Linked DNA regions of Homo sapiens: regions 2, 3, 4, 5, 6 and 7 are each reported to be linked to region 1. The links are microRNA targets in miRTarBase. Many come from high-throughput screens and were not tested one by one. Region 1 holds a microRNA gene; each other region holds the end of a gene's coding sequence. Distances are between the middles of the regions.
The links. Region 1 holds the annotated microRNA hsa-miR-196a-5p (UAGGUAGUUUCAUGUUGUUGGG, at 2,748-2,769, shown strand). A microRNA usually pairs through its seed, bases 2 to 8, with sites in the 3' UTR of a target mRNA and lowers its output. Matches are read on the target gene's strand: a 7mer-m8 pairs with bases 2 to 8, a 7mer-A1 pairs with bases 2 to 7 and ends in A, and an 8mer does both.

Region 2: miRTarBase lists MPP2 as a target of hsa-miR-196a-5p. The part of its 3' UTR that is shown has no 7-base or 8-base seed match.
Region 3: the mRNA of CPD is a reported target of hsa-miR-196a-5p. Seed matches in the 3' UTR shown: 7mer-m8 at 1,180-1,186 and 7mer-m8 at 4,048-4,054.
Region 4: the mRNA of MED13 is a reported target of hsa-miR-196a-5p. Seed matches in the 3' UTR shown: 7mer-A1 at 2,661-2,667.
Region 5: miRTarBase lists ITGAV as a target of hsa-miR-196a-5p. Seed matches in the 3' UTR shown: 7mer-A1 at 225-231.
Region 6: miRTarBase lists SH3GL3 as a target of hsa-miR-196a-5p. The part of its 3' UTR that is shown has no 7-base or 8-base seed match.
Region 7: miRTarBase lists BCORL1 as a target of hsa-miR-196a-5p. The part of its 3' UTR that is shown has no 7-base or 8-base seed match.

The regions. Positions count from the first base shown.
Region 1 is chr17:48,631,301-48,635,300 of GRCh38, reverse strand. It overlaps MIR196A1 (microRNA 196a-1), which reads left to right and starts at 2,742; the gene lies at 2,742-2,811. HOXB-AS4 (HOXB cluster antisense RNA 4) reads right to left here. Exons shown (of 2, transcript NR_046611.1): 2 at 369-750. LINC03057 (long intergenic non-protein coding RNA 3057) reads left to right here. Exons shown (of 2, transcript NR_186590.1): 2 at 1-497.
Region 2 is chr17:43,874,480-43,878,479 of GRCh38, forward strand. It overlaps MPP2 (MAGUK p55 scaffold protein 2), which reads right to left. Exons shown (of 13, transcript NM_005374.5): 13 at 881-3,504. The coding sequence ends at 3,328. Among named protein-coding and RNA genes, the nearest start is that of CD300LG, 29 kb to the left of the region's middle.
Region 3 is chr17:30,464,268-30,468,862 of GRCh38, forward strand. CPD (carboxypeptidase D) reads left to right here. Exons shown (of 21, transcript NM_001304.5): 21 at 321-4,595. The coding sequence ends at 547. Among named protein-coding and RNA genes, the nearest start is that of GOSR1, 11 kb to the right of the region's middle.
Region 4 is chr17:61,942,870-61,947,464 of GRCh38, reverse strand. It overlaps MED13 (mediator complex subunit 13), which reads left to right. Exons shown (of 30, transcript NM_005121.3): 29 at 448-548; 30 at 865-4,595. The coding sequence ends at 997. Among named protein-coding and RNA genes, the nearest start is that of INTS2, 17 kb to the right of the region's middle.
Region 5 is chr2:186,676,353-186,680,947 of GRCh38, reverse strand. ITGAV (integrin subunit alpha V) reads right to left here. Exons shown (of 30, transcript NM_002210.5): 29 at 4,013-4,135; 30 at 47-3,751. The coding sequence ends at 3,656. Among named protein-coding and RNA genes, the nearest start is that of FAM171B, 15 kb to the left of the region's middle.
Region 6 is chr15:83,617,475-83,622,069 of GRCh38, reverse strand. SH3GL3 (SH3 domain containing GRB2 like 3, endophilin A3) reads right to left here. Exons shown (of 9, transcript NM_003027.5): 9 at 3,327-3,988. The coding sequence ends at 3,783. Among named protein-coding and RNA genes, the nearest start is that of ADAMTSL3, 34 kb to the left of the region's middle.
Region 7 is chrX:130,055,232-130,059,826 of GRCh38, forward strand. BCORL1 (BCL6 corepressor like 1) reads left to right here. Exons shown (of 14, transcript NM_001379451.1): 14 at 623-2,840. The coding sequence ends at 905. Among named protein-coding and RNA genes, the nearest start is that of ELF4, 53 kb to the right of the region's middle.

The sequences.
Region 1 (4,000 bases):
CTGCCTAGTATTTTCCCTGCCCGTTTATTTTTTAATCAGATTTTTAAAATATCCAGCAGCACTTTGGTGCCTTTTCTTGGGGTTGGGGAGTGGGGTTATCTATGTGTGTATCTATGGGAAGGTGGGTGCCTTCAGTGCACTAAACCCCCTCTTGGGCCTGCAGCTGGACCTCACTCCTGTACCTGAACACTCTGCCTGAGCCTGAGCTAATCTTAGCCATCCATTGTGTCTCAAAACTGTTTTGGAGGTGAATAACTGTGAGGCAGGATGGAGAACCTTTTGCTCTCCCATCCAGAAGGGCACCTAACCAGGCCCCTGGAGCAGACAAAAGGAGCAGGAAGTCAATCACTTCGATCCCAGTTCTCTGAAGCCCAAGAAGAAAACGGATTTTCCTTCGTTTTGGTTCGGAGGCCTAGTAGAGAATTTGGATTCCACCAAGTTCTCTTTTTTCAAAAAAAGTAAACGGTCCAGAGCAGACAAAAACTGTGGAAACTTGAGGCCTGGGTAGTAGTGGTTTTGTTTGATTTTGAGGCTTTAAAGAGATAAGGAGACGGTGGTGGAGCTCCGCCACGCCGCGTGGCTCTCACTTCCACGCCGAGGAAGACCGACCGGCCCCTAGGTTTATCCTCTGGGAGCCCCCGGCCCAATCAGCCCCCTTCAGGCCTTGGGAGTCACCCCGAGTCTTATCTTCTGTCCCCTTCCAGCAAGTACCCGGCAATAAACGGGCAGGGCTGGGCAAAGGTCTGGCCGCTAGAAACGGAAAAGGAAAGAGAAAAGTAAAGTTAAACAAAAAACAAAAACAAAAAACCCTTGGGTCGGGCGCGGTGGCTTACGCCTGTAATCCCAGCACTTTGGGAGGCCGAGGAGGGTGGATCACGAGGTCAGGAGTTCAAGATCAGCTTGGCCAATATTGTGAAACCCCGTCTCTACTAAAAATACAAAAATTAGCCGGGCGTGGTGGCGGGCGCCTGTAGTTCCAGCTACTCGGGAGGCTGAGGCAGGAGAATCGCTTGAACCGGGAGGCGGAGGTTGCAGTGAGCCGAGATCGCGCCACTGCACTCCAGCCTGGGTGACACAGCAGGACTCTGTCAAAAAAAAAGAAAAAAGAAAAAACCCGCTTTCAGCGGAAAGATGCAAAAAATGGAGGCCACCGGGCGTGGTTGGGAGAGCCTGGGCTTTCGCAAGGAAGCGCCAGGGAGCCCAGTTCTGCTCTAGCGAGAAGCAGGGAGCCTCATCCCAAGCCCGGCGGGCCGAGCCGATCATAGGGTCTGCGCGGGGCTCTGTGGATTTTCCGTGTAGGCGGCGGCTTCCAGTCTCTGCCGGGCGCGGGCTGGGTCAGCGCCGACTCCTCCGAGAGAAGAGCGCGCCTGGCGGCCGGTTCGGCGGAGGCCAAGTCCCGGGGGCTGGGGCTGCTTCTCTCCACGCGGACAAAGTGTGCGGGCAAAGAAAGGGGCCGAGGCGGGTGCTTCTGCCGCTCGTAAATTTGTTTCCCCTTCCTTTTAATCCGCCCCCGGACGTCTTTCTTTTCAGGACAGGAGGGGATGTAAACCGTTTGAAGTTCATCAACACGGTGAAGTTTTATTGTATTTCCGGTCCCCAAGATTTATACCCGGGAGGGGGAGCGGGCGGCCAGGTGGACTCCCTCGCTACCTCGGACTTCCCTGCCGGACACGTGGCCACTCGGACCCTCGCTTCTGGGCGAGGGCGGGAGGGAGCCTGGACTGGGCCGCGGCCGCTGGCTCCGCACCTTCCGACGGCCGCGCACTGCCGGCACCGCCGCCGCCCAGGTAAGTCCGCCGCCGCCCTCGGCCTGCACAGCTGCGTTTTTGCGATGGGTGCGGGTGTGAGCGTGAGCACCTGTGAGCAGGCGGGTGTCTGGAGAGGCAGAGGTGAGGAGCGGGCACGTTAGGGGGCCAAGGACCCAGACCGAAGGTCAGGAAGGAGGAAGCAAATTTGTTCTCTGTGTCCCAATCCCAGTCCTTAGCCTCTCAGTCCTTATTCTGCGAAGATTCGGAATGAATTGTCTTACCTGGGGCAGCTCGGCCTCTGCAGAGCCAGGGCCCTGGGACATTTTGGGCAGGGTGCCTTCACAGCAACTGTTCAGATCAACCGGCTTTCCCCTCCAAATCCCATTCTTCCTCTGTTTGTTCCCTAGAATTCCCGAAACTTTCTGACACTCTGCTTTTCCACCTTTCTCTCTGTCACTTTCTTTCTCAGCACTCTTTTGTCTCACTCTCCTGTCTGAGCCCCAATCTCAAAGCTGGGGGGTGTGTAGGACTTGAAGATCTGGCCTCTCAGAGCTACACTGGGAGGCTGGGTGACCTGGAATACAGGGGCTAGCAGGGTGCTGAGTATAGATGCACCTTCGTATCTGTTTGAAGTTGAGAATTCTTTTTATCTGTGGAGACCTCCAGCTGGGCTGAGAGGCAGAGACTGAGCAGGTATATCAAAGAGGCCCTGCCCAGGCTTGTGCCTGTGTCTAGGGTCTTCTTCTCTGGCCAGGGCTCCTGGAAGGCAGCAAATGTCTCTGGAATCTGAGCTATCAGGACCGGCTCCAAAATGGTTTTACCTAGAGTCCTGGGTTCAGTTCTTCCGATGTGTTGTTTAGTAGCAACTGGGTTCTTCTGTTGGGGAAGAGGTGGAGCAAAATGAAGTTAAGCCGCTTTTTGGCCCACAAAAAAATGGCCACAGGGTTTGCCCCCAGTGAGCTCTTGACCTAGAGCTTGAATTGGAACTGCTGAGTGAATTAGGTAGTTTCATGTTGTTGGGCCTGGGTTTCTGAACACAACAACATTAAACCACCCGATTCACGGCAGTTACTGCTCCTTGCTTAGCTGGAGGAGTTGGGGGAGGGGAGCAGAATCAGGACTGGAAGATCAACCTTGCAAAATGGGGAAGAGGTTTGAGGTCCTTCATCCAGGAGCAACAAGGATGTTCCCCCAGAGAAGAGATCTGGGAAGTGTCTTCCCACTTCTGAATGTTTTTTTGTGTGTGTGTTAGGAGGGGAAGGGGGATGAGGAGCAGTCAACTCTCCCGAGGCACCTCCCTGGCCCTGTTGGGCTGTTCAGCCCAACCCAAAGATGGCAGTCAGAGCTCCAACTTCCAGCCTTAGGGTCTCTGAGCTCTCAACTACATCCAGAACTTTCCAGAGAAACTCTCCCCAACTTCACAAATATTTGATTTCAAAAGAAATGCAGGGGGTTCTTGAGGTTTTTGTAACTCTTTGCGGGCTGGTGCTCCACCTCAGCAGGAAGCTTCAGGTCCTTGAAGAGGGCTCAGTAGGTCTCATTCTGAAAGGCAAACACTGAGAGCTCTTGCAATCTCAGCCTAAAGCCCTCAGGGTCCTGTCGAAGGCCCCCTATGGGACCAGACCTACAGAAGTAGGTCCGAAAAGTCCTTCCTTTCCTAATCCCTCAGTTGACTTTTTCCTCCCCACCCACCCCAGTGGCCAAAGGCTTCCCACTGGCCTTGGGCTGGGCTGGGGGTACACATAGGTCCTGAGTGCCACCTCCTTGGAGAGGGGCCTGACTTGCAAGCTAATGGGGAGCCCAGGTTGTTGGACAATTCAACCCCGACTGATGCAGTGACAAGGGATGAAACCAGGGGTTGGGCAGGGCAAGACTCTGATACCCTCTCTGACCTCGGTCCTCTTAAGGCTGTTGGCCCTGTGCCCAGGAAAGGAATAACTAGAAGTGCTGGTGGAAGAAGGGGGACTTTCCAAAGCATAAGCTAACTTTTGTTCCCAAACCTTCCCCCTGCTGCTTGAGGCAGAGGAAATGTGCAAAGGGGCCCGGGAAAGAGGCCCGACCGGATGGGGCTTCGGCGCCAGGCTGACTTGGAGGGCCAGGGGGTCTCTGAACAAGGGGCTTCTGCTAGAGCAGAGGGGCATTAGGGAGACCCACCCCTAGCCTAGGGGAAATGGAGCCTTCAACCCACTGTCCTGATAAGCAAAGGCTAACAACTCTGTCCCTTGACAGTTTCTCATCCTCTGGTCTGGGTG
Region 2 (4,000 bases), 4.8 Mb from region 1:
AAGGAATGCTGAGGGCAGTCACACCTCAGGCGCAGTGTTTGTGATTATCTACAGGCACACATGAAGCCTGTCAGCAATTATGTGAACCTGTGATAAATCAAGCAGCTGACCAAAGGTTACCTGCTCCTCCCTGCTCTTTCTACCCAATAAATATGGAGGGCTGTGGAAGCTCAGGGCCCTTGCTCACTAGAAGCAAAAGCAAGGACCCCTTCTTTAAAGCAGATTCTTTTGTCTTGTTTTCATTTCTGCATTTGTCCTCTTTTGTTCGGTCCTGTAGTAACTGTCACAAGTGGCGTACATCCTCCTTCATTCAGTCCCATAGTGACAGTCACACAAGTGCAGGTATCTTTTTGGTGGAACGATTTCTTCTCCTTTGGGTAGATGCCCAGTGATGGGATTGCTGGAATGAATGGTAGTTCTATGAGAACTCCCCAAACAGCTTTCCACGGGGGCTGAACTAATGTACGTTCCCACCAATAGTGTATAAGCACTCCCTCTTGTCTGCAACTTCACCAGCATCTCTTATTTTTTGACCTTTTAATAGCCATTCTGACTGGTGTGAGATGGTAACTCATGGTAGTTTTGGTTTGCATTTCTCTGATGATTAGTGACGTAAAGCACTTTTTCATACATTGTCACTTGTATGTCTTCTTTTGAGAAATGTCTGTTCATGTCCTTGGGTACAAGCACTTAGAAGGAGCATCTTCTGGGGATGGGGGAGTGTGCAGGGGCAAGACAGAGGAAAGGAAGACATCGCAGAAAACAAGACATGTTGCTCTGACTTCCATTCTAGTAGTCATCTGTGCTGTGCTCCCCAGCTCTCACTCTCTCCCAAAGCCATCCATCCAACCCCAACCAAAGAAAAGCAGAGCCAGAAGCCTTTGCTTTCACATTTAATCCAAGGAAAAAGAAAGAAAACCAATCAGTGAGAAAACTCAAGAATTGGATGGCTGAGGGAGGGAACAGAGGAAGCGCACTGGGGCTGGGACTGAATATGGACAGTGGATGGTAGGGTCCTCACTCTCTTGAGGTCCCTCAAATACAAGAGTCCACAATGGCAGGGAGGGAGAACAGAGTCATAGAGCTGTGGTGGGGGCACACACCTGTTCCAACCCAGCCCCAGCCCTGTTCCAGGTGAGCCAAGGACTGACAGCCTCTGCTAGGTACCTGGGAGGGCTGTGGAGTGAGGGCTCAGGCAGGGGAGGTAGGAGGCTGCTCAGAGAGGAAAGACCGAGAAGAGACAGGAGGGAAGGGCCCCAGGCCTGCCCCTTGAGCATCCCTAGCAGTGAAGGTGCCATGAAGGCCAGGTACCCAACCCATCTCCATCAGAGATGATGGTCATTTGGATCAAGGGGGCAGAAGCAGCTGCAACAACAGATCTTCCCCTGCCTCTACCCTCAAATCCCCCAGAGAAGGTAGGAAATGGCAAGTGACCCTATAGCCTCAGGTCAGCAAGAAAACACCCCATTTCCTTCCCACTCCCTTAGGCTGAGGGTGATGCAAGGCAGAGCTGAATCAGGATGAAAGGACACTGACTAAGGGAAAAGAGGAGCAGGAGAATGAGTGTGTAGTATACGCAGAGCCACACCAACGAGATGGGGGCAGGCCTGGCCTTTCCACCCCATGTGTATAGTCTATGCAAATGCAAATGAGATTCCTAGTATAAGAAATATATTCTAACATTTGTAATAAATATTCTGTTTATTCTCCTTCCCCTTCCCTAGGAAATGGGCACACAGTGGTTCAGGGGCCAGCTTTGGCTGACGCTGCAGCGAAGACTAGTTAGACACTTGGAAGAACTGGGAGGCACAAGGGTTTGGACTCAGGGTGTCACAGGTTGTCCCCTCTGAGGACAGGCTCCCCCCGGAAGGAATGCAGAGAATAATGAAGGATGAGATGCCCAAGTACATCTAGGACAGCATTCTTTCTTAAAGGGAGTCTCCTATTTTACAAAACTGCCCTCCCCAAGTTATGGCAGGGGGGCATTTAGGGTAGGGGGACAATAAGACAAGGGAGGAGACATCAGGAAAGGACCAGGGCTTTGGAGTCTGGGATCAGGGTATTATAAGAAATGAGGGCTGATGGGGAACCCCCAGAAAGGGGCCCCAAAGAGTGACCTCCAAAACAAAACCCTTTGCTTCCTCCCCAAATTAAACCTGACACACACACACACACACGCACGTGCACACGCACACACATACACACAACCTGGTGCCAGAGGCACAGACAGGTGCCGAACATGCACGTGGAACCACAGGTTGTACAGACTACAGTGTAAATGGCGCCTCTGGAGTTGTGTGTGAGGAACCTCCTGGAGGGCAACTGTCCTTCAAGCCCAGGCTCCCAAGGTCCCCTCTGCACTCCTCCTTAGCCCCTCCAACCCAGCAGCCCTGATGCAAGTGGGCTACCTGGACCTGGCTAGACAGAAAACCAAATGGACCAAGGTCAAGGACATAGAGCTCAGACCTGTGCCTGCTGTGGGCCATGGAGAGCTTGGGGCTCTTCAGTTGGTAACAGCAGGTTGTCACAGGGCTCAGCCCTCCATCCTGCCCCTACCTGGGCTGAGCCCACTGGCCCCTGCCAGCCTGGCCCTGTGGGGAGCAGGGCTGACCTGTCAGGACACATTGGAGAAATCTGGAGAAACTTCGGCAGTGAGAAGCTGTGGATGAGGGAAGGACCGAGCAGCATCTGCCCTGCGACCCTGTCCCTTTCCAAAGGAGCTGGGAGCTGCAGTGCTCTGCAGCTGTGGCCACTAGCTCTCACTCTGACTCCTCCAGCCTTCAAGATGGCACCAGGCTGGCACCACCACCCGGGCCTGCCTGGCTGCCAGCGGGCCACACATTCCCCTGGTCACACGGAAACAGCCCAAGGCCTGTTCCTCCGACACAGGGGTGAGAGGTGGGAGGAGTCCAGGAATGGGGTGGGTGTGGCCAGTCCAGAGGAGAACTGGTGACTGGGGAGGGGTGGCAGGGGGCAGTGTGCCTACTGACCATGTGGTCCCAAAGCAGCTTTTCTCTTCTCTGTACTGACCATTATGGAGGTGACTCTGACACATTCCTGGGCATAGCTTGGCCCTCAGAGATATCTGGTGACCAATGGGCATCAGGAGTGGGCAGCACCTGGGCACAAGGTACCCCATGAATGCCCACCTCCCTGGCAGTGCACGCCTCTGTGCTGAAGCCAGACTTAGGGCCTGCTGGGAGCTGTTACCCAAGGACAGCCAGATATGGGGGCTAAGGATTGTGGCAGGGGGTCACAGGTCAGGAGGGGGATGGATTCAGGTTCTGGGTTTCAACACAGAGTGAGCCAAAGACCAGGTGAACAGGCTCAGTACACCCAGCTGACAGGCACCCACTGGGGCTCTGTCCGTAGCTTCTCCATGGCTGTCTGGAGCTCGCGGAAGGTCCTCTCCAGGTTGCTATTGACCAGGCAGAGGTCAAAGTAGTGCCCGTAGCCCCGCTGGATGCGGCTGCTCTCCTCCACTGTCCGTCTCAGGTCCGCCTCCTGCCCAGGCACAAGGGGACCTCCCTACAGTCAGTGCCCACAACTCACCCCCACTGTCAGAAGGAGCTACAGCTGCCCCCACTCCCCCTCCCCAAAGCCCAACCCTGGTGTGGACTCCCTGGCTAGGGAGGCAGGGGCCCCTCTCTGCGTGCCTCAAAGTGGCTCACCATCAACCACAGATGGTGAGTGAAAGGGAGGAAATAAGCTTTAATAACTGCCAATCACACCCCTAAATGCTTTGCATGCCACATAATCTTCACTACAGCTCTGCAAGATAGGATTAATTCTTTCCCATTTATAGCAGAGAAAATGAAGGTATAAAAAGGTCACATAGCCAGTCAGTGGCTAAACAGGGTCTGCCTGACTCTCAAGCCAGTGCTCCCTCAAGTCTGACTAGGCTGCCTTACCTATGCAGCTAGACAGGCTGGTACCAGGGCAATCCACAAGTACCCAGGGCAACCCCACCCTCGACCCAGTGGAAGCTGGATGGGCAGGG
Region 3 (4,595 bases), 18 Mb from region 1:
CTGTGGTACTACTTGGGAGGCTGAGGTGGGAGGATTACACACACACACAAAAGATCTTATAACTAAAAATGATCTCTGGGTAATGGAAATGTAAATATAGGAGGTTTTTTGGTTTTGGCTTTTGTTAGTTTGCTTATCTGTATTTTTAAACTTTGTATATTGTACATATACTGCTTCTATAATAATAAAGGTTGTTCTTAAGTGCATGAAATAGAAATAAAATAAATGAGGGGTATATTATTAAAAGTTCCATTGTAAGCGGCTGCTTATTAATATCCTTAAAGTATAATATCACCCACATGATGGTTTTTGTTTGTCAGGTGCTACTATGTCGGCATTGATCCTAACAGCTTGCATTATTTGGTGCATCTGCTCAATCAAGTCTAATAGACACAAGGATGGCTTTCATCGGCTCAGGCAGCATCATGATGAGTATGAAGATGAAATTCGCATGATGTCTACCGGCTCCAAGAAGTCCCTCCTAAGCCATGAGTTCCAGGATGAAACAGACACTGAAGAGGAAACATTATATTCTAGCAAACATTGAAAAACACATTTTGCATATCTCCCAGCATAAGTACCAAGCAAAATTACAGTTCCTCTTGGGAGAACACTGCATTAAGAAGAGAGACTCTCTTGCTTCTTCAAAGAGCTTTGGGAAATTAAATTGCTAAATTTGTATTCTCTGTGAATTTCACTGGCAGTTTTGAACTTCCCTTCCTTAAAGTACTCTAAACCTTTAAAAAAAAATCTGATTTATGCAGCAGAGATGGGACAGCCACTTTTTCTTTTTAATTTAAGATGAGCTATTTGGAGCTTATGTAATAATGGCATAAAGCCAACTAGAGGATGTTGTATTTTGCACATCAGATGTTTACTAGTGGCTTTAGTATTTTTCTTTGTTTTAAATGGCCAAAAGAATCCAGAAACATTAAGGCAGGGACAGCAGTCAGAATCGACATAAAGCTTTAAAAACTCAAGGTTTTTTCAACCTACTGAGGAGTACTTTTCTCTAGTTGTTAAATAGCTGGAGTTTTTCTTATTCAGGTTTAATGGAGGTTGAATTGATTTTTAAACACATATAACAGTAGGAAATGAATAAATGGGCTTCTGCATTTGGCTTTCTACCTGTTCCAAGGCTAGATCGGAACTGGTAGACTACGCTGTAAGCAGGATTTCACTACCTCTCTTAAGGTTTAGCAAACTTCTAAATAGCCCATTTTAAGGGAGAACTTACTAACTTTATTGTGAAAGGTCTAAATGCCCACTTGAATGAAGCTGAGAGAGAGATCTAGCAAAAGCTAAAACTCATGTTGTCTATCTTTGAACTTGGTAAAAACCCACAGGTGCTGCTGCTTATATCTGTGAAGCACTAGCTTATTCTAGGAATGCCTGATTCTTTAATATTGCCTAAATCGGAACCTTTTTCTATGTTGCACACATGGTTTTCAGATGACCCAGCCATCTACAAGATCTGAATTCTACTGAAAATATCTAGAAATGTGGAAGAGACCTACTTGCACATTCTTAACCTGTATTTGAACACAAAATATCTATACTTCATGCTCCAGCCCAAGCCTATACCCTGTAATAGCATACTATTATTGAAATCGCTTGACCGGTCTTGTTCACATAGGCCTCTGGGAGTGATTTGGTTCTTTGCCCTAATGTTTCATTTGACGGTCTCTTTTTGATCAACCAATTTTTCTAAAAGTTCAGTCGAAAGCTTTTAAGTATAGCTTCCTCCCTTGAAAAAAAATGTAAACTATGACTGCTGAGTGATAAAACACTGTGGTGTGAAAGTGTCATCTTCACTGCCAATCAGGCAAAGACCGGAAAGATTTGCATTTTATTATGTCTGTCTTATCATGCAATGGAAATGATGCTTTTTGTAAGTATGCATCTTACCAATGATGTAACGGTTTAATACCTTTGAATGTTTTAATAACCAAGTTGCTGCTGAACTTATACTAAATCAGGGGACCAAAAAACTTGCTCTTATCTTCTCAAATTGTATTCTATATCCATTAATGTATCAGTTATCCCAAAGCCTTCAGGTGGAGGGGTTTACCACCTTCCTAGGTCGTTCAACCAGGTTTTGTGAGGAATGCATTCAAAGTGGCTTTATAAAAGAAGATTTTCTTTAGCAAGAATAATGAGGTCATGTCATTTGTTAATAAGTATCTGTGATAAATCCGTGGTTCAAGGTTAAGCCATTCTGGTATTCTGGTATTAGCAACTGTAAATTCTGCCACCTCATACATGGAACAGAGCTTGTGGGATGCTAATAGTTAGTGAAGTATACATGATTTAATTTCTAATAATCTTTATGTTTTCTTTAAGGATGGTGGTGTATTGCTCTTTTTCAGCTTTATTTTTAAGAGTACAGTCAGGAAACCAACAAGGGGCCTAAGAGTGGCTGCCCCTGCTTGGGACATTACAGCAAGTGAAACAAAGTTAATGTGACAAGCTTTGCTTTGTTATCATTGGTCTTCACTAGAGGATACCTTTTACATGTACTTCTCTCTTGGATCAAATATGTCTTTAACTGTACATCTCAGTGGCTGGAGGCCATGCCTTTTAAGCATGTGTAAAATTTTTAAAGAAATGAACATACACATAGTTATTTTAGTAATATTTCCTGAAAGAAAAACCAAATTCTGCTATAAGTCTTGATCTTCAATGAACTTTTAAATAATGCATTTAGCTGGAAAACAAGACTTTCCCAGCTTGTATTACCTAGAAGCGTGAATGTATAGGATACCTGACTACTAAGACTATATTCTCAGCCCTGCCCTGTCTTTTATTTGCGGGTCTAATCTAATATTAGAATATATTAACCGCTTAAGGCATTGAAGCCATATGGGATGGGGAATGCATTTCTTCAGTGTTTCTCCGAGAGACTTTCCATTTCCTTGGAGTTATGGCGGCAAGTAAGTATCATAGTATTAAGAAATTTGCCTAAATCTGAGTTGTGCCTTTCTTTACTCACAAGGCATGGGCTTTGTCCTGGTGATCAGTTTGTAAGCCTTCTTCCTTCCCAGCTCCTTAATAAAAGCAAAGTGATTGAGTAGGTAATGTTCAAAGTGTCTGCCTGTGTACATGTACTTGTATTGATTATGTAGTTCAGTAAGATGTGCCCAAGTCATTTCAGAAAGAAAGACCCTTCAGTTTTGATGCATTTTGCTGAACACTTGGGTAGTGAGTGGGATCCTATCCAGTTGAGGAATGCTTGCAATGCTCATTGAAGGGATTTGCTTTGGGACTTTGTCATCTTCCAGAAAGGAAACATATTGTATATTTGGCCCAGTGTGATTGATTGCTTTATCTTTGGTAACTTTTACTTGAATGGGATTTGCTGAATTAATGACTATTGAATTTAAAACTAATTATGAGTTGACAAATAAATAAAAGGTAGTGTTTATGTCTGAGCTTATTGTGTTTGAGCTAACACCAGGTTACTCAGTAACCATGACCTGCTCCTCCATTTCCATTTATTCTCAACATTAAATAGTTTTATCTTGTTGTTGCCAGAAATGCACTTGTGCCAGGTATTGTCCCTGCTGTATGAAAAGCTTCTTGGCAATGAATTCTGTAATAGTGCCCTACATTATGGTTTTCTGGTGGAATTGTTTTAACAGTGACAACCCAGGATTTCCAATATATTTTTGTTTTATTGTTATTACCAAAAATTCCACTATGATTGATGTTCAGTGATTTTCTATAGCAACTTTTTTGGTAACTCTTTGGGTTTCTGATTTGTTTTAGCTAAAATTTTGGGGATATGATTTGGGTCTTTGATTAATGTCAGCTGAACTTGGATTTCTAGTTCATGAAGAAATCTCTCCCAATACCCATTTATCCTATTTTTAGCAATAATTCGTTAATGATTCCACTTGATTTTCAGAATATTGTCCTGGTTGATTTTGATTTGACAGCATACATTATGAAATTTGAAAGTAGGTTACCATTTTGAGGCAGTTGGATATAAATTATGTAAATATGTATGATTATGATTTTTATAAATGGCATAACATGAGTGTACTAACTACCTTCTATGCTGGCCATGCTACAGATTTTCTGGAGGTATGACAATAGTATTTTTTTATGCTCAGATTAAAAATCAGCTTTTCACCTCTCCAGTTTTTCCAAGTGATACTCCCAGTTCTAGAGCAATCTACAGCTGTTTATGTGAGGTGCCCAACACCCATTCATCTCAAGTGCTTCAGTCTTTGGTTTATTTCATGCACTGTGCCTTCAAAATGAAATTTTTAAAAGGGACTTTAAATGAAGTTGAATAGTAGTTTTTAAAAGTCAATTTGTAATTTATGTGAAATCTAACTGTAATGAGGTCCTTTCTGTTTTTTATATGTAAACAGATCTACTAATCCTGTATAAAAGTTATTTTACGATGTTTGTCTTTCTTTGTGTTTTGTCTCATAATCTTTTTTCAGATGCAATATGCCGGAAAAAGTTATAGGTCCAGTTTGAAAATTATTTAGTTTTTCTGCCTATGCTAGTGGAAAAATAGTACCAGGATCAGAATACAGGGTATCACCTATGGAATGTTTCTGTATTTATGAATTGACTCAAAA
Region 4 (4,595 bases), 13 Mb from region 1:
CATCTAGGCAAATTAGACTTAGCAGGTAATTAGAAATTCTTTTTCTAAGGATTATTGTATGGTCTCAAAAACAATAAAGCTAAAGAAAAGGAAATAGATTCAAAGTAAGTTTTGCACTTAAAAATCACTTCTGGCTAGGCACAGTGGCTCATGCGTGTAATCCCAGCACTTTGGGAGGCCAAGGCAGGAGGATTGTTTGAGGCCAGGAGTTCAAGACCAGCCTGGTCAACAGAACAAGAACCTGCCCCTACTTAAAAAAAAAAAAAAAAACATTTCTATAATGAATTAGTTAAAAGAGAACAAGCATTTTTATAGTGGCTTTCATTCATAACATAGGACTAAAATGTATTTCATCATTTTATAAGATATATTGGGAGAATAAGGTAAAACTAAATAGCAGATTATTTTCTGTTTGGCTGACTGATTGATTACCTGTTACCTTCTTAGGCCTCTTTGCACCTCCACGTGCCTTCAGTGCAATCTGACGAGCTGCTTCACAGTAAACACTCCCACCCACTTGACTCAAATCAGACTTCAGATGTCCTCAGGTACAACTCTTTTACCATTAACAGTTTGTCACTGCAACTTTAAAAGAATATAATGTTGATTCTTATATATTTTTCTCATTTTTGGCAAGAATTTACAGTTGTGTACCAGTGGATCTCTAGATAAACACTGCTATTCTAACTTGAGTAATCTACTTTTGAGAATAATTTTTATGGAAATTGCTTCTTTCCCCTCAAGGACTCTCTGTTACACTCTTTTTTAAGGTGACTTTGAGTCTTAAATGCCATAATTGAAAACTGCTTCCAAAATCTAGGTTGGAAATAAATAAATGACTTATGCAGTTTATTTGCTTTTCAGGTTTGTTTTGGAACAGTACAATGCACTCTCCTGGCTAACCTGTGACCCTGCAACCCAGGACAGACGCTCATGTCTCCCAATTCATTTTGTGGTGCTGAATCAGTTATATAACTTTATTATGAATATGCTGTGATCTTCATTTGATGGAACTGTGCAAGAAAAGAACAAGGAAAAATGGATGTTTCGCTGCAGGATTAAGTTACAATTATCTTCTCAGTGAAGGTCATTTGTGATGGGGTCTAATTCTTATTACTTCAACAAATATTGTTTTGACTTGGGGGGAGGGGCTATAACCCTGCTATTTTTCATTGACTCTATTGAACTCTTTAGGATGATGACTGATCATACAAAACGTATTATAACATTTTCGTAGCAAAATTAACCTTTTTTTTTTCCAGTCACAGTATTTGTGAAAAGTAATGAGCCATAGTACCCAGTCATGTTAAATGAATATTAAAAGCATGGAGAGGAAACATGAGGAACAATGAATTTCAACATATGGCTTCAGAACATGAAGATGTTCTTGTATGGATTATAGTATCTAGTATTCAAAAATGCCTGCATCTCTTCTCTTATTTATTGTAAGTTTTTAAATGTATAAATTGTCTTATATTTCTTAACCTCTTTTATAAAAATTTTCCTAGAAGGTTTATACTGCCTTCTTGCTTTAAAGCAATTGGTCTAAAATATATGTAATCGTCTTAATTAAAAAGTTGCAGTAGGGTTGCTTTTAGAGTATTATTTTTTTGTAAGGGGGTGGGTGGGACAGTAAATTTGTATTGTCTCGATGTACAGTTTAACGGGGATAGAGGGGGAATAATGTCCATACCATTGTGTGTGGAGGATTTACAGCTAAGCTGTAGTTGCAGAGTACATGTACAGTAATGAAGTTCACTGTGTTTATAAATTGAAAAGGTACCAGGTCTTACAGCATTTTATATATCACATCTTTACAGAATAACATGATGGCAATATACAAGTGGTATTGTTAGGTGGTTTAACTTAGAATAAAATGAGAATTCTTCAGTTATATTTTGTACTATGGTTTAGGGCTATGACTAATATTTCAGGCCATTTCCGGTGAAAGAAACTTAGTTTTACAAGAAAAACCATTTGCTACTGAATGCTTAAACTAATTTTAGTGTTTAATGTTACATGCTTAAATTTTTTTCAGTTTTAACAGTGGCATATTTAGGCATGGAAATATTATTATGAAATTTATTTTCAGGATCTGCTATAAGGTTGAAATTTAGCCCAGCTCTAGGCATTTTACAAATTATTTTTCAAGCAGTCATTCTTGATTGTTTGACTTTTTTTTTTAAATTAAAGATTGGGAATGTATGTGAGAGTATGCATATGTATGGGTGTGTGTGTGTGCGCGCAATCAAACTGTGGTGTAAATAGATTCTCAGTGAATTCTGGTATTCAGACTCTATTCCACTAGTGAAAGAACCATTTTTTAAACTTCCCTTGCCTTTTTTATTTATTTAATTTTCTTGGTTTGGAGATGTCAGTCCCAAACACCAGAGTCTGTACTTTTCTATAACACAGCTCAGATTAAGGTAGGGCATATGCCAAGGAGGTTCTCACCTCCCTAAAGAAGGGACTTGAATTTTAGGGACTTTAATTCACCCCTCCTTCAATACAACTTTCCCCCTTCTTGTTTGCACATGCCAAGATAACTGCTTTTATGCAGGCTGTACCCCCTTGAAAAATCCTTTCTACAGTGCTGCTCACAAAAGAGCCCAAGTTCGCCTCCTACCTGCATTGCTGACTTGAATTCACAGTCGCCGAGTCTACCTAGCTTTCTTGGAAGCAGTCTAGCAAAATTTCTATTTGTACGTTCACTAATTATCTACAAGGACAAAATCAGTTGTATTTACAAAACTCTACTTCAGTGTTTGTTTTAGTTTTTTTTTTTACTGAAACTTGTTTTTGTGAATACTCTGTGCTTAGAATTAAATATCACTTTCTTATGAACAACATAACTTCTTCAGATTGTGTATATGAAAACATTAGCAAGTCTTGTTTTTTCTATGAAGCAAACACAATTGGTGACAAAGGTTGTCAATCATTTCTTCAAAATTATAATGCAGTTCTAATGGTCAGCATATTTTGATATTAAATTTAAAGATCACCTCTCTGCATTTGTTTTTAAATTATGCTAATACACCACACATTATGTTGGTATGTTTTGTTCTGTACTTTCTTTAAAAAAAAAAAAAAAACTTGTCTGAGATTTGAAGGAAAATGTGCTTATTTGGAATTTCCATAAAAAGAGTATCCTTTTTATACACTTAATAGTGACTTTACAAAATAAAAGTTATATTCTCAGTTGTTTAAAATCACTAACCTATGATAACCACACCTCAATTTGAAAGTAGATTTAAAATTATTCCCTGACAGGTTATTTAATATGGAGCCATAAGGAGGGAACCCAGTACACAATTATTTTTTATTTGGGAATCAGGGAATAGTTCCCAAATATACAGGATTTATTGATAAGATTTTTTTTCTTCCCTTCATATATCCATTCAAACTCAATGGAAAGTTATTAAATAACCATTAGAAAAGCTCAGTAGACTTATTTGAGAAATTAAGCCTTGTGCAGGATGATGGATTTGACTTACTAATGTACTGTCACAGACAAATATGGGTAGTTTTGTTTAAATAGGTAAGCAAAATATTATACTTTATAGCAGTGGATTACCAACACCTTGACTTCTTTGTTACAGTGCTAACATCTTTTTTTTTGTGCAGGTATCCATGATTATTAAGCAGGGTGGAAGTTCAGTATTTTGTCATTTAAAAAGATTAGTTATATAATGTCTGCTTCCAGCCAGTGAGAAACATCTAGCCATACCTTTCTTATGCAAGCCATTGAGTTATCAGGACTGTGAATTAACACTGTATGAATAAATTTCTGTACACCTTATTGTTTGGCCAGAAGGCCACCAAGTGTACTTATATGTAATCCTTAAATTTTAAAGTAGCTGTAATTTTTAAATATTTCTAAACTTTTCTTAAACCACTAAAATTAAGCTCTTACTACTTAGTCAACTATCCTCAGCTGTATTCGTACTCAATTGTCAGTATGGCACAGATTACTGTATTAAAATATTCTCCTTTCGTCTTCATATTTACCTTCTGAGGTAATTTTTTAACTTAATGTGTTACTACAAAGATTTGCAGATCTTTAATCAAGCACTATGTTAATACTGTAATATCAGAATACTATGTTGCATTATTTAAAATGTTCAAATTGAATAGATTAAAAAGTTTTTAAATGCTATTGCATCATATAATTTGCTATTCATCCACTATGGCATTGCATATCAATCAGTTAATACACTTAATGTTGCATGAGTGATATTTTGGTCTGGGTTTCCTCTTAAGATTTTAGTTTGTCTGAATTAAGGAAAAATGTTTTTAATATACATTCTTATTTTGTCCCACCCCTCCAGAAATAAGCTGGAAATCTTAACTTTTTGGGGGGTCTTTTTTGGTGTTTTAATGGGCCCAGAACTGTGGTTTAAATTTTTATGTATGTATTTTCTTTTTTGTGGAGTATAAATTTAAAAACTGGATTTGGGACCTAAAATACTCCTCAGGTTGATGTATTCATGAAGTTTTAAAACATCTTTAGTTTTCAAAGTAAACTGGATATGTGGACCTTAAAGTTATTGAGTTTAAGCTACAAATTGTAACGTCATTACTGGACATGTCAGCAT
Region 5 (4,595 bases), not on the chromosome of region 1:
AAAAACAAAAACACGTCACAGAAAGGATAAACCCCATACACAAAAGTGGTACCATATGCTTATGTTTATTGTACAGTCACAAGTTACATGTTGTAAATCAAGCAGAACACTGTACCAGTTTTCACTAACTCAAATCAAGTTAGCAAATTACAAATTTTAGAACAGATTCATTTTCTGTCTCACCCAATGTGGGTGACCACAAAGATATTTACTTTCTATGTTATTAGGTAGCAAATTAATTTGATATACTACACAGCTTCCAAGTTACCTTAGGATATTTCAAAGTGTTTCAAAACTGGTAAAGAATAATTCATTTCCAGCCTGAAATACAATGCAGAATGGACCATTTAGGGGTAAATAACCTCACTTAATCACTCTTTCCTGCTAACAAAAATAATACAAATATTTGTTTATATTAGGCTTACTAAATTAATGACAACTTTGAAATTATCTAGATTTGGTTACATTGTTATATTGCACTTGAGAACAATGACAAAAAACATCAAAGATTCAGTACCTCTCCCAAGAAGTTCATTATATATCAGAAATTAAAATGAAATATAAGCATATATTGCATGCTGCATATTTCTATCGTTCAAACCAGCCAACCAACAAACTAAAAGGAATACTCTCCAAAACACTGAGTATTAAGTAATTTCATCTGCCTTTTTTGATCCTACAATCATTTTTCAAATTTTAGGTGTTTTTCTTTAAATTATTCATCAAACTACTACATATACAAGCTATCCAAGAATGCAAACAAGGTGACATTGAGATGGGTAGTGGCTGCACATAGGTATTCCAAGAACGACTCATTCTTCTCCACCAAGCTCATCATTACATTTTGCAACTTAGGAAGATCTGCCAACTTACAAATTCTGTTTGCCTTACAAAAATCGCTGATCTATTATATACAATACTTTTATCACACAAATCTCTCCCTTAGGGTCATGATTCACTATCAAAAATCTTTCACAGCCCTCTTAAGCCAGTAAAGTCTCTTTTATTAATACTTGAGTTTTCTTTATGGAAATGTAAGTGTTAATGAGAATTAACTATGAATAAGTAGTTTCATAACACAGGTAGAATGATGGCAATAATATTTTGACTAATTGTTTTACCTTTCAGATTCAGAATTACAGTGATAATCGTTAAGAGAAAAGAGAAACAGAAAAAATGACTCACATGTATTTTTCTCAAAATATCAATTCTGAAATAAATACCTATATAAAAATCAATATCAGTATCAATATTTCTTACCAATGTCAAATGTTTTTAATATCTTCTAGTTCATTCATGTTTTCTTAAAACTGAATCAGATCATAAAAATTTTACATTTCAAAATGGATTTTTATTCTCAATAAATCACAAATATGGTAGTATTTCAAATGTTTTAGAGATTTAAAGTTTTCATAGGGCAATTTTTTGATATTTAATCATGATAAAAAAAAATCCCACCATTTTCTTCAGAAAGTAGGCTTTCAAATTACTCTTCTCCATATTTTTGTAGATATATAAATGTTCATTTTTTGAAGGAAAATCTATGCTATTATACAAAACTATATTTCATAAAGGTAATTTAAGATATCATGTTAATTTCTAAATTACAGCATCTTTCAATCTCCAATACAAGATTACTTTCAAGATAGATGCCATAAAAGGAATAGATGGCACAAAAGCAAATTCTAACACTTTTGCCAAAGAGTGACTTTCTATCCAACATATTTTCAGAAATGACTGTTACTAGGTGGTAAAACTGTTAGGGTAAAATTTGTTATAGACTAACTTACTGATTGGTGGCAGGCAACACTTGGCCCTAGGATAAAAATATTTTTCTTAAAAAATTTTAAATTTATTGGTAATAAAAATACTTACTGCATATGATTAAGCTCTTTCAAGCTACTAATAAAAATCTATACTCCAAGACCCATTACTTTTGAAATTCACTAAAGCTAAAATAGAAGGTTTTGTCTAGAGTCCTACCTTGTATACCTCAACTAAATGTGCTCCTATTTTACGAATATATTCTCAAGATTAGCTCAGTCAACTTGTGCATGAAATTATGAGATATGGCAAGATAAATTTCAATCATTTTTAAAACACAGCAAAATAGTCAATTATTTAAGGGAAATATTTATCATTACCTAATGAGGACAGCAGTTAAAGAGCTATTAAACTCTCCATTTCTAATGTACAACATGATGTAATTGCACAAAAATAGGTATAACTGATCATCATCCCCAGGCCTTGAGGAACTGTGAATAAATCATATATTCCTCTAGAAGGTTCACCACTCTACAGAGCCATATAAAACTACAACTTGCCACCTATGTGGCTTTTATTAATAATCCTAGAAAAGTAATTTATACTAACGAACTTCAGAAAGGTTTAAAAGGTTTTCAGTAACTTGAACTGCTTATAAAAATACCTTTTAGAAGTTATTCTGACAGCCGAGACTGATTTTACACATTACCTTGCTTAAACAGAGGTAATATTCCTGTAACATCATGCTATTGCTAGAAGTAAATCAGTGAGTTGCCTTAAGAGTTTTTATTCCAAGCATTACTCATAAAGTTGGGGTAAGGGGTCCAGGTTCCTGTCAACTGTAAAGATTTCTCACTGATCTTGACCCATTCTCAGTAACAGTTTTGGAAATATAAGGAAAAGTACATGAATGGAGGAAAATAAATTAATACTAACTAAAAACTCTGCTCTACTCTAAGAATGTAATACTTACTATATGCATAAGCAACTATCTCAAAGAACTACACAGTATTTTAATAAAAATGCTTTTTTTATACTGTAAATAGCCAGACTAAAACAATGGAATAAATATGCTTTGGAAATAATTTCCAACTCCATATGGCTTTAAGCATTATGATATTCAGGTGAAATTAAACAATTACACAAAAGAGCCATTTGTGATTATGGAACTAATTTTTAGTATAGGTTGGCTTGAAGGATTTGACCTAAAATTTATACAAGTTAAAAATGTAATAAAATATTGTGGATTTAATATAAACAGAAGTGTAATAGGATCTACCAGATTTTCATACTAAAACAAAATATTGTACCTTTGTTATTAAAAGCAAGAATTTGGATGGTATCATGTATGTGTTTATAAAATTCTACCATATGAGTGATTAAAAAAATCCAAGTTCATGCAGTTATAAAGTCTTTAGTATTCTGAAAAGTAAACTGTAGTGTAATATGTATTAACATTAAGTACCTATACAAAAGACATGATTGCTAAGGTCCAAATTTGGACTGCTTTAAAACAACAACAACAACAACAACAACAACAACAAATAAAGTTCCGTACATTAAATCAGAAACAGTAACTGAAGGAGGTACTATTTTATATAAAGTAGTAAATCAGGCACTACCTGTCTTATATACATTGAATAAAAACTATCCCTTGAAATTTTATTATTTAAATACCTAAAAACACAAGTCACCCTATGTTATTAAATGTATGTCTGAACTTATTTATAAGGAGAAGGTTGACAAATATAATTCTCATTTTGTGGTTAATGCCAATTAGCACTATCAGCAGTAAAGCCTTGGATTTTTACTCCTCATGAAGAAAGTTTAAATCTATAATAAAGTTGCTAATTCTAGTGGGTCAAGATGTAGCATAACTTAAAAACTGCAGTTAAGTTTCTGAGTTTCCTTCACCATTTTCATGAGGTTGAAGCTGCTCCCTTTCTTGTTCTTCTTGAGGTGGCCGGACCCGTTTAAAAAAGCCCATCTGTCAGTTGAAGAAAAACCATTATTACTGTCACATCAGTGTAGAATACGAAAAGTATTTTTTGGGTGACTATATTACCACTAAGAACATTTAAATTGTATTTCATAAAATTTATCTTCCCTCATATAATAAGTAATGCTCATCAAGTATCATCATTACAGTCCCTTTCTTCCTTCCCTTACTTTTCATTCTTCTTTTCCTTCTTCCCTTTCCCTTTTCTTCTGCTTTCCCTCTCTCCTTCTTTCTAAGTCCGTTACTTACCCTGTACATTACAAATACCAAAACAGCCAGTAGCAACAATCCTGCTAGAACTGCTAAAATGATCACCCACACAGGCACAGGCATGGGCGCTGGCTGAATGCCCCAGGTGACATTAGTGGTAACCTATCGAGGAAAAAAGCTTTTAGTTTTAAAAACAGTCCATTGACTTAATCAACAAATATCTGAGTAAATATTATATTTTATTTTAATGGAATTCACAGTATATTCTTTTCCTGCATATGATAATTTAGTGGTTTCACATTTGATATCAAGAGCATGCACATACACACATGAAACTCCCAATGATAGGCTGACTTCTGATTGCATCTGACATGATTTGTTTTCCTTTTTTTTGACAGAGTCTCGCCCAGTATGTAGGCCAAGCTGGAATGCAGGGGCATGAACTCGGCTCACTGCAACCTCCATGCTTCAGCCTCCCCAGTAGTTGGAATTACAGGCCTGCGCCACTATACCCAGCTAATTTTTCTGTATTTTTCGTAGAGAAGGGGTTTCACCATGTTGGCCAGGCTGGTCTTGAAATCCTGGCCTCAAATGATCCACCTGTCTCAGCCTCCCAAAATGC
Region 6 (4,595 bases), not on the chromosome of region 1:
ACACAAGAGTTAGCCATTATTATTATCATTATTTGATTACAGACACTGAATGTAAAACTGTTCTGGAGAAGTGGTGTGTGTGTGTGTGTATAGCTGGCTGGAGGGAAAACATATTGTTGTGAATTTAGTGATGTACCGTGGAATCAGAAGACTGGGGAACCTGGCTTAGGTTACCTGATTTAGGTGATCAGTCTGGCTTCCGGGCATTTGTTACAAAAGTCAGTGATCAGCAGTGCCTTTCCAAGTGACTTGGGTGAACACTTAAGTGTGCAGTGAGGTACAGCAATCTGATTTCAAACTCTGCCTCTGCCACAACAGGGTTACGTCTTTTCATTGCACTTCACAGGTATAGTGATTTTTAGAAAGGTTTGTAAACTCTTCGAAGGTTTGCGGTAACCGTTTTTATCGGCGTTATTTTTTCAACAGCATGTGCTTTCTGTCTCTGTCACACTTTGGTAATTCTTACAATATATTAAACTTTTTCATTATCATATCGGTTATGTTAATCTGTGATCAGTGATCTTTGATGTTACTATTTTAACTGTTTTGGGGCACCACAAACAATGCCTATATAAGATGGTGAACCTGACTGATAAATGTTGTGTGTGTTTTGACTGCTCCACTGCCTGGCCATTCCCCCCTCAGGCTTCCCTATTTCCTGAGATACAACAATATTGAAATTAGGCCAATTAGTAACCCTACAATGGCCTCTAAGTGTTCAAGTGAAAGAAGAGTCACAGGTCTCTCACTTTAAATCAGAAGCTAGAAATGATTAAGCTTAGTGAGGGAGGCTTATTGAAAGCCAGGGTAGGCTGAAAGTTAGGCCTCTTGCCTCAGTTAGCTAAGTCGTGAATGCAAAGAAAAAGTCCTTGAAGGAAATTAAAAGTGCTGCTCCAGTGAATACATGAATGATAAGAAAGTGAAGCAGATTTCTTGCTGATATGAAGAAAGTTTGAGTGGTCTGATGATCAACCAGCTGCATTACCTGAAGCCAAAGCCTAATCCAGAGTTGAGAGAGGTGAGAAAGCTGCATTAAGAAAAGTCTGAGGCTAGCAGGGGTGGGTTCATGAGGTTTAAGAAGCCACCTCCATAACATAAATGTGCAAGGTGAAGCAGCAGGTGCTGATGGAGAAGTAAGTTATCCAGAAGATCTAGCTAAGATTATTGATGAAGCTGGCTAAACTAAACAACAGATTTTCAATGTAAACTATAGCCTTACATGGGAAGATGTCATCTGTGACTTTCCTAGTTAGAGAAGTCAATCTCTGGCTTCAATGCTTCAAAGGACAGATTAACCTGTTAGGCGTTAATACAACTAGTGACTTTAAATTGAAGCCAATGCGCACTGACCATTCCAAAAATTTTAGGGTCCTTAAGAATGATGCTAAATCTGCTCTGCTTGTGCTCTATAAATGGAACAAAGCCTGGATGACAGTATGTCTGTTTATAGCATGGCTTACTAAATATTTTAAGCCTACTGTTGAGATCTACCGTTCAGAGAAAAAGATTCCTTTCACAATATCTCTGCTAACAATGCACCTTGTCATCCAGGAGCTCTGATAGAGATATGCAAGGAGATGAATGTTGTTTTCATGCCTACTAACATAACATCCATTCTTCAGCCCATGGATCAAGAAGTAATTTCTATTTTCAAGTCTATTACTCAAGAAATACATCTTGTAAGGCTACAGCTACCATAACTAGTGATTCTATTGATGGATCTGGGCAAAGTAAAGTGAAAACCTTCTGGAAAGGACTCAGTATTCTAGATGCCTTTAAGAACATTTGTGATTCATGGGAGGAAGTCAAAATATCAACATTAACAGGAGTTTAGAATAAGTTGATTTCAACCCTCTTGGATGACTTTGAAGGGCTTAAGACTTCAGTGGAGAAAGTAATTGCAGATGTGGTGGAAATAACAGGAGAACTAGAATTAGAAGTGGAGACTGAAGATGTGACTGAATTCCTGCAATCTCGTAAAAAAGCTTGAATAGATGAGGAATTGCTTCTTACAGTTGAACAAAGAAAATGATTTCTTGAGATAGAATCTACTCTTGGTGAAGATGCTGTGAACATTATTGTAATGGCAACAAAGGATTTAGAATATTACATAAACTTGATAAAGCAGTGGTAGGATGAGAGGACTGACTCAAATTTTGAAAGAAGTTCTGTGTGTAAAATGCTATCAAGCAGCATTGCATGTGACAGAGAAATCTTTTGTGAAAGGAAGAGTCAACCCATACAGCAAACTTCAGTGTTGTCTTATTTTAAGAAATTGCCACAGACACCCCAACCTTCAGCAACCCCACCCTGATCAGTCAGTGGCTATCAATATCAAGAACTTCCAGCAGCAAAAATATTACCCCTTGCTGAAGGCTCAGATAATCATTAGCATTTTTTAGTAGTAAAGTATTTTAAATTAAGGTGTGTAGTTTGTTTTTTTAAGACATATGCTCCTACCCATTTAATAGACTACAGCATAGTGTAAACACAACTCTTCTTAAGTACCAGGGTACATGTGCAGGATGTGCAGGTTTGTTACATAGGTAAATGTGTGCCATTGTGATTTGCTGCACCTACCAACCCATCGCCTAGGTATTAAGCCCGACACGCATTAGCTATGTTCCTGATGCTCTCCCTCCTCCCCTCCCCCAGCAACAGGCCCCAGTGTGTGTTGTTCCCCTCCTCGTGTCTATGTGTAAGCACAACTTTTCTATACACTGGGAAACCCCCAGAATTTGTGTGACTTGTTTTATTGCAATATTTGCTTTATTGCAGTAAGTAGCCAGGAACAGAACCTGCAATATCTCTGAGGTGTGTCTGTATGTGGTCGTTTGATCCTAGGTAAGTCAGTCAATGAGGCTCCTTCTTTTCAAATGGGAAATAATACCTGCCCCTTCACATAATAGGATTGTAGACTCCAGTGGGCCAAAGCATGTAACTAGTGCGTACTGTAGGCAAGGCCAGGGGCTGGTTCACTGAGCCTAAGAGGATGTTATTGGGGACTCAATCAACTCTTGACCACACTACTTCCTGAGCACCCATAACACAACTTTCTGAAAAACCTATCCAAAATATGGCAGCAGCAGAAGCTTGATTTGGGGTCTTTTATAAATAAACTTGAAGGTAAGTAGAAGGGCTTTCCATCCCCCAGCTGGAAGGAGGATTCGTGTCATGTTTGAATCAGGTGGAAAGCGAAGGCTCCCATCAGGAGGCATCATCTAAGCATCTGCGCTGTGACACTTCGGTTGGCCATGGGGTGTGAGTTTGCAGCTGGAAGACTGTGCTTAAAAATCAACAATTCAACATTAAAAATAACCAAGGCCTTTTGCCAACACAGTGTGTCATGTTTATTGGGCTATTCACAGGTAAGCTTAAAATACAATGAAAAGAAAAGACCAGACGTCATCAGGAATGTCGAGAAACAAAATATTTAGCATTTCTTAGTTTCAAATGTTACCATTTCATTGCAGCTGAGGAATATAGGCCATTCGTTGACATAACTGCAATGGGTGAGACTTATTTTTAGCCACAGGAAGCAAATACATTTAACCAATGACTTTTAGGACAGGAAGCAAAAAAGAAAATATTTTCATGTAGCAAGGACAAGAAAATCATTTATACAAATTAAAGTGATATAAAATACATTATAAAGAGAGCACACATACAAAAGTCATTAAGTTGGTCAGAGAGCAAAGGATGTCACAGAACACCGCACTGAGAGCACACTGGTGTGAATTCATTTCAGTTACGAAAGTATGTCCAGAGTTTGTGTTACACATTTACTGAGGTAAAGGCACGATCACTTCCACGTAATTAATGGGGAAGAATCCCGATTCTCCGTGTATCATTCCTTCATACCAGTTTTCATCTATTTGATTGGTTAATGTAATGATGTCCCCTTCTTTAAATCCTAATTCTCCTTGGTTTTCTGGCTCAAAGTCATAGAGACCACGACAGCAGGGCTGGTCCATGGGAATGTTAGAACCTGTCCACATGATATGGAGACAAAAAGTACAGATGAACATGATGGATTATCCATGGGAAATTGGAAATGTGGAAAAGCTCAGAGAGACCCTTAACAGCAGGCCTTGCTTCCTTCCCACAAGGCCAGCTCCACCCAGCTCACGGTGCCGTTTGTGGTCTCTGGCTGCCTCAGCTCTCCCAGCTGCCTGCGCCAACCCCATGAGCCCAGAGTCTATCTTTTCAATACTCCCAGGCAGAGAAGTCGTGCCCAGCCCATCTCCCAAAAGCAGCCAGTCAGCTCCACCTGGAGCCCTAAGGGAGCGACAGAGGAATCACAGGCCCACCTCCTTCTCTCTGGGAGCTTACAGTTTCTTTGTGGGGATTAGAAAATACACGAGAAACTTTTATTTATTTATTTATCTATTTTTGAGACAGAGTCTTGCTCTGTTGCCCAGGCTGGAGTGCAATGGTGCGATCCTGGCTTACTGTAACCTCTGCCTCCCAGGTTCAAGAAATTTTCGTGCCTCAGCCTCCCAAGCAGCTGGGACTACAGGCATGCGCCACCACGCCCAGCTAATTTTGTATTTTTAGTACAGGTGGGGTTTCACCATATTGGCCAGTCTGGTCTC
Region 7 (4,595 bases), not on the chromosome of region 1:
ACTTTCTGTAATGTGAGCTCTGGCCCTGCAGAAACGATGGTGCTGCTGCTGGAGAAAAAACTTGTCTAATGCATTCCAGAGCCAAAGAGAAATGCCTTTTGGATTACCCGCAGTTTAGGCCTTTCTCCACGGCTCCCCCTCTGCTGGGGAAGATCTTGGAGAGCAAGGAGGCCAGGGAAGCAAGAGTAAGAACAGGAGAAGGGAAGGCAGCCAGGGTTGGCAGGGGCGGGAGTCGGAGGAAAGACTGGTCCCAGCAGATGGCAAATGCCAGGTCACAGGGGCGCAGGCTAAGTCCCCAAGAAGCCTGCTAAGAGTTTTAGGTTCTAGAATGCCCCTTTGCCTCCTGTTTGTGTTATTTTGGAAGAGGTGGTCACTGATTGCGTGCTCACCATTTAGCTGAAAGCCGGGCCAGGCATTGCAGGGGACAGGAGAAGACATTTGCCTCAGCTATACCCAAGGAGCCTGTGGTTTAGCAGGGGACGGGGGAGCCAGACTGGCAGTGAGTTATAATGGGAGACATTGATGGTCGTGCAGCCTTTGTGGGCTTTGCAGAGTGTTCTGGGTCGGTGCCCCCACCGCTTCCTCCAGCCTCCTTCAATAACTCCCATCCTTGCCTTTGCAGGCCCTGCAACTGGTTCCTCTTTTCCGATGTCTTGAAGAGGCTGAAGCTTTCCTCGAGGATCTTTCAGGCCCGGTTCCCGCACTTTGAAATCACCACCATGCCCAAGGCCGAGTTCTACAGGCAGGTGGCCTCCAGTCAGCTGCTGACCCCTGCCGAGAGGCCTGGAGGCTTGGACGACAGATCCCCCCCAGGCTCCTCTGAGACTGTGGAGCTGGTGCGGTACGAGCCAGACCTACTTCGGCTCCTAGGGTCCGAGGTGGAATTCCAGTCTTGCAACAGTTGACCGGGAAAACAGCCCCTCCTCTTCTTTCTCCTTCCGAGTTCGCCCTTCCCCCACCTCCTTGTCTTTCCCCGACCGAGCACCAGACTGCAGAATGAGGCAATAATACGGACCAACAAGAAGCCGCCTTATCAATGCCAGCATTAGCGACTGGACTGTTTTTGTTTTTTTGGTTACAATTAGTTCTCATCTCCCTGTCGTCGTCATTGTTATCGTGGTTGCTGATGGGGGTGGAAAGTTGAACTCCATGTCTGAGGACAAGAGGTCCCGGGGGTGGTGGGAGGTGGCGCCGGGGTCCCTTGGACTGGCCTCCTTGTTCATGACCAAGACCAAACCTGGGCCCTGGATGGCCTTGGCCTGTCCCGAGGAGAAATGAGAAAATCCCAGATCTCTGAGCGCCCCCCAACTCCATTCCCCTGTGTTCTTCTGTCTTCTGTAGTATTTATTTTATTAGTATTTAATTTGTATTGTTTCATTGGTTTCTGATAAGTCTGTATCACTGTGACGATTTGAGACAACTTGTTGTATTGAGGGACTTTCTGTACCTCCTTTTCTTTTTCTTTGTTGATGAGCTCTGACAAAGCTATTCCCTGGTGTTTTTTTCCCCCACTGGGGAGGGGGTGAGGTGGAATGGGGTGGGGGAACATGGACTTGTGACTAACGAAGCTGGTTGCTGCTGGCCCAGGGCTGGGGGCTTGGGGGTAAATCCTGAGGCTTTGGTGCTCCCCCACCCACCCATTCCCGCCCTTTGCAGCAGCCCCGCTATCTTGAGATTAGTGTTGACAGGGAGGGGAGGATTGTGAGGTGAGGGGTTAATAAGTTACTCTAATAAAGGAGCGTGGAGAAGGGATCTGAGGGGTGAGGGTGGCCCCCCTCCTCACGCCTTCTTCACTGCCCCCCTCAGAGTGCACAATACGAGTTTGTTCCTGCCTCCACTCTCCCACCCCGTTCTGGCCTCCCTGTCTCAAGATACTGAGCCTCTCACCTCCCAGCCCTCAGCCACCCCCATCCCTGCCCCTTCTGAGACTCACAGCACCCCTTTCCTTCCTCTCCTCCCACCTCCTCCCTCAGCCCCTCATTCTCCTTGGGAATCTGCAGAGGGCTCTGGGACTCACTGCCGGATGTGAAATCCAGGCGTCAGCTGTTTCCTAGGCAAGGGCAGGAAAGTGGTCTCCAGCCCTTGCTCCACTCATGCCTGGGGGCCTGGGGCTGAGTGGTATCCCTACCTGGCCTCCCCCTGGCCTCTGGGCCTCCAGCGCTGGGTTTGTCGAGTGAGAGAGAGAGAGGAGCTTGGGTTGCTTCCCTGTCCCCGCCCCCTCTGTGGCATTGTCCCTCCCACTCTTATTTTTCTACCAATTGCTATTTTTCCGAACAATCCTTGTAGAGTATGTACCATCCAAAGGCAGGAGGGCCTCGCCGTGGCCGGCTCTGGTTGGAGATGGTACAGTTTTATTGTACAGGTGCTAAAACAACAACAACAAAAAAGAAAATGGAAAAAAAAAAGATTAAAAAAAAAAGGAAAAAAAAAAAGCCAGTTTGAGGATGGGACAATCTGTTCTCTAGAGGCTCCTGAGCCATGCGGGAGCATTGGTGGTTATTTTCTTTGTATTGTGTTTGTTCTTTGTTCCTGGGGGGGAAGTTCTCGGCCCCCTTCTGTAGGACTGCTCCCCACCCCCACCATACTGCCCAGTTGGTTTTGAACAGTTGTTTTCCCTTTTTAAGAAAAAAAAATACATATATATATACATATATATATATAAAGTTGAGGGGTTTTGGACTTTAATTTGTTGGTTTTGTTGGGGTTCCTGGTATTGTGTAGTTTATTTCATGTTCTGTTTGCCTTTCCTTTTTTCGCATTTGGGTGTATATTCTGGCTGCCCTTTATGTTTCATTTTAAGCAACTGGCTGTGGAGTCAAAAACACTTGCATACTGAAAAACCTGTGTCAGGGCTTCTGTCTCCCGTCTCTCTTTTTCTCTCCCGTCTCTCTTTTTCTCTCCTCCCCTTTGGGACTTTTTGGTGGTTTCAGAAGGTGGGCATTGTGATTCAGTAAATGGGGAGCCCCCGCCATCCTGCTTTGCAGCTGTGGGTCCCAAGGGGTACGATGAATAAAGGCAAGGTGGAGTGGCTAGTGAACATTGGGTCACGATCTGGAAAGAAAAAGAAAGGGGCAAATCCTGGGGGCGGGGCCAGTGGGGGCAAATGGAGCATCTGGCTCCTGTTGCTTTGGTTTGGGGTTGAAGCAGGTGCCTGGGCAGTCCTTGTTTACATAGGAGTAGCAGGGTTGGAGGAAGTAGCCTTCTCTGTGGTGGCTGTGGGAATAAGCCTCCTTAAGGAAGTCCCCTGCTTGCCCTAGGCCACCCTGCCGAGGTGGCATCTGGCTGCATGGCCTCATCACTGCCCTCACTGTTGTGCCAGTGCTCCCCACCCACGGTGCAGGCCTTCCATGGTTCTGTTTTCCTGCCACCGAGCTACCATGAAGGCAAGATGCCCATCCTGGATTTTGCAGTTTTTCCTCCCACTTCTGAAAAACAGTGGTAGAAGCTATGATTCTTGTGATTGCTGGTTCCAGAATGCACCAGTGACTGAGAGGAAGAGGATGTTCGAGAGGCCTGGGATGAGGCCCTTTGAAGCTCTATTCTCTTAGGGCTTCTCACTGTGGCTTTCGAGTCTGGAGAGCCCTGTTAGAGAGTGTAGAGGCGAAGGGATCTGTGCGTCTGGCTGGCTGGAGTCCAGCCGTCCTCAGGAGTGAACTCTAAGCTGCTGTCTTTGCTCAAGCCTCAGAAGCTTGGCTCGACCCAGGTCCAAGCATCATCCTCTTTGAACCATAGCATTAATCTTCCTCATTGGCCGTCCTCTCCCCACTTTCTGATCCCAAGGCCCTATGCAATAGCCACCTTTGTCAGATTCCCAAACAAGCCCACAGTGGTTCTGAATTCAGGTCGATCCTGTGCTTGGAACTTGCAGTTAAGTCAAGAAATCTGACATGTTGATAGGTTATAAAGCCATGTGGTGAGTATAAGAATTCAACTAGTCCCAGGATGCTATGGGAGCTCAGAAGCATGGGCAAGGGCCCTGGGAACACATCCTAGAAGAGGTGATGCCTAGTTGATACTTTAAAAAGTAGAAATGCAGGAATTAGAGGTGGCAGGGAAGAGTGTTTGAACTGAGAGGACAATCTGAGCAAAGGCTTGGATACAAGGGGAGTTAAAAGCAAAACCAAACAGCAGATTGTTTTATTGCTTTTGGGGTTCTTTGCCCACGGCTTACCTGGAGTCCCACTGCCCTTCTGCCAGGTTGGAAAGATCAAGGCAGGAAGTATGGGCCGTGGCATTAAATCTACATCCCCGGTCAGGATTGGGGTGAGGATGGCTTGGTGGCCTCTTATTAAATGATCTCCCAGTCCTTTTAGTATGGTGTAGAGGAAAGAGCCAGCACCACTCCTAACTACCTAGGCTGACCTTGGGCGAGAACCTAATCTTTCCCAGCCTTAATTGCTCCATCAGCCAAATGGAGGCCAATGTACCCACCTACTGACAGAGCATCACACTGAGGACCATAAAGATCTGTTTAGCCAAAATTAGTTCCTCCTTCATGCCGAGCTCACGAACCTATGGTTAATGAGGGTCTTATCAGAACGCTCTTTGGGCTTGAAAGAGAGGCTCTGTTCAAGTCTTGGTGGGAGGAGGGATAG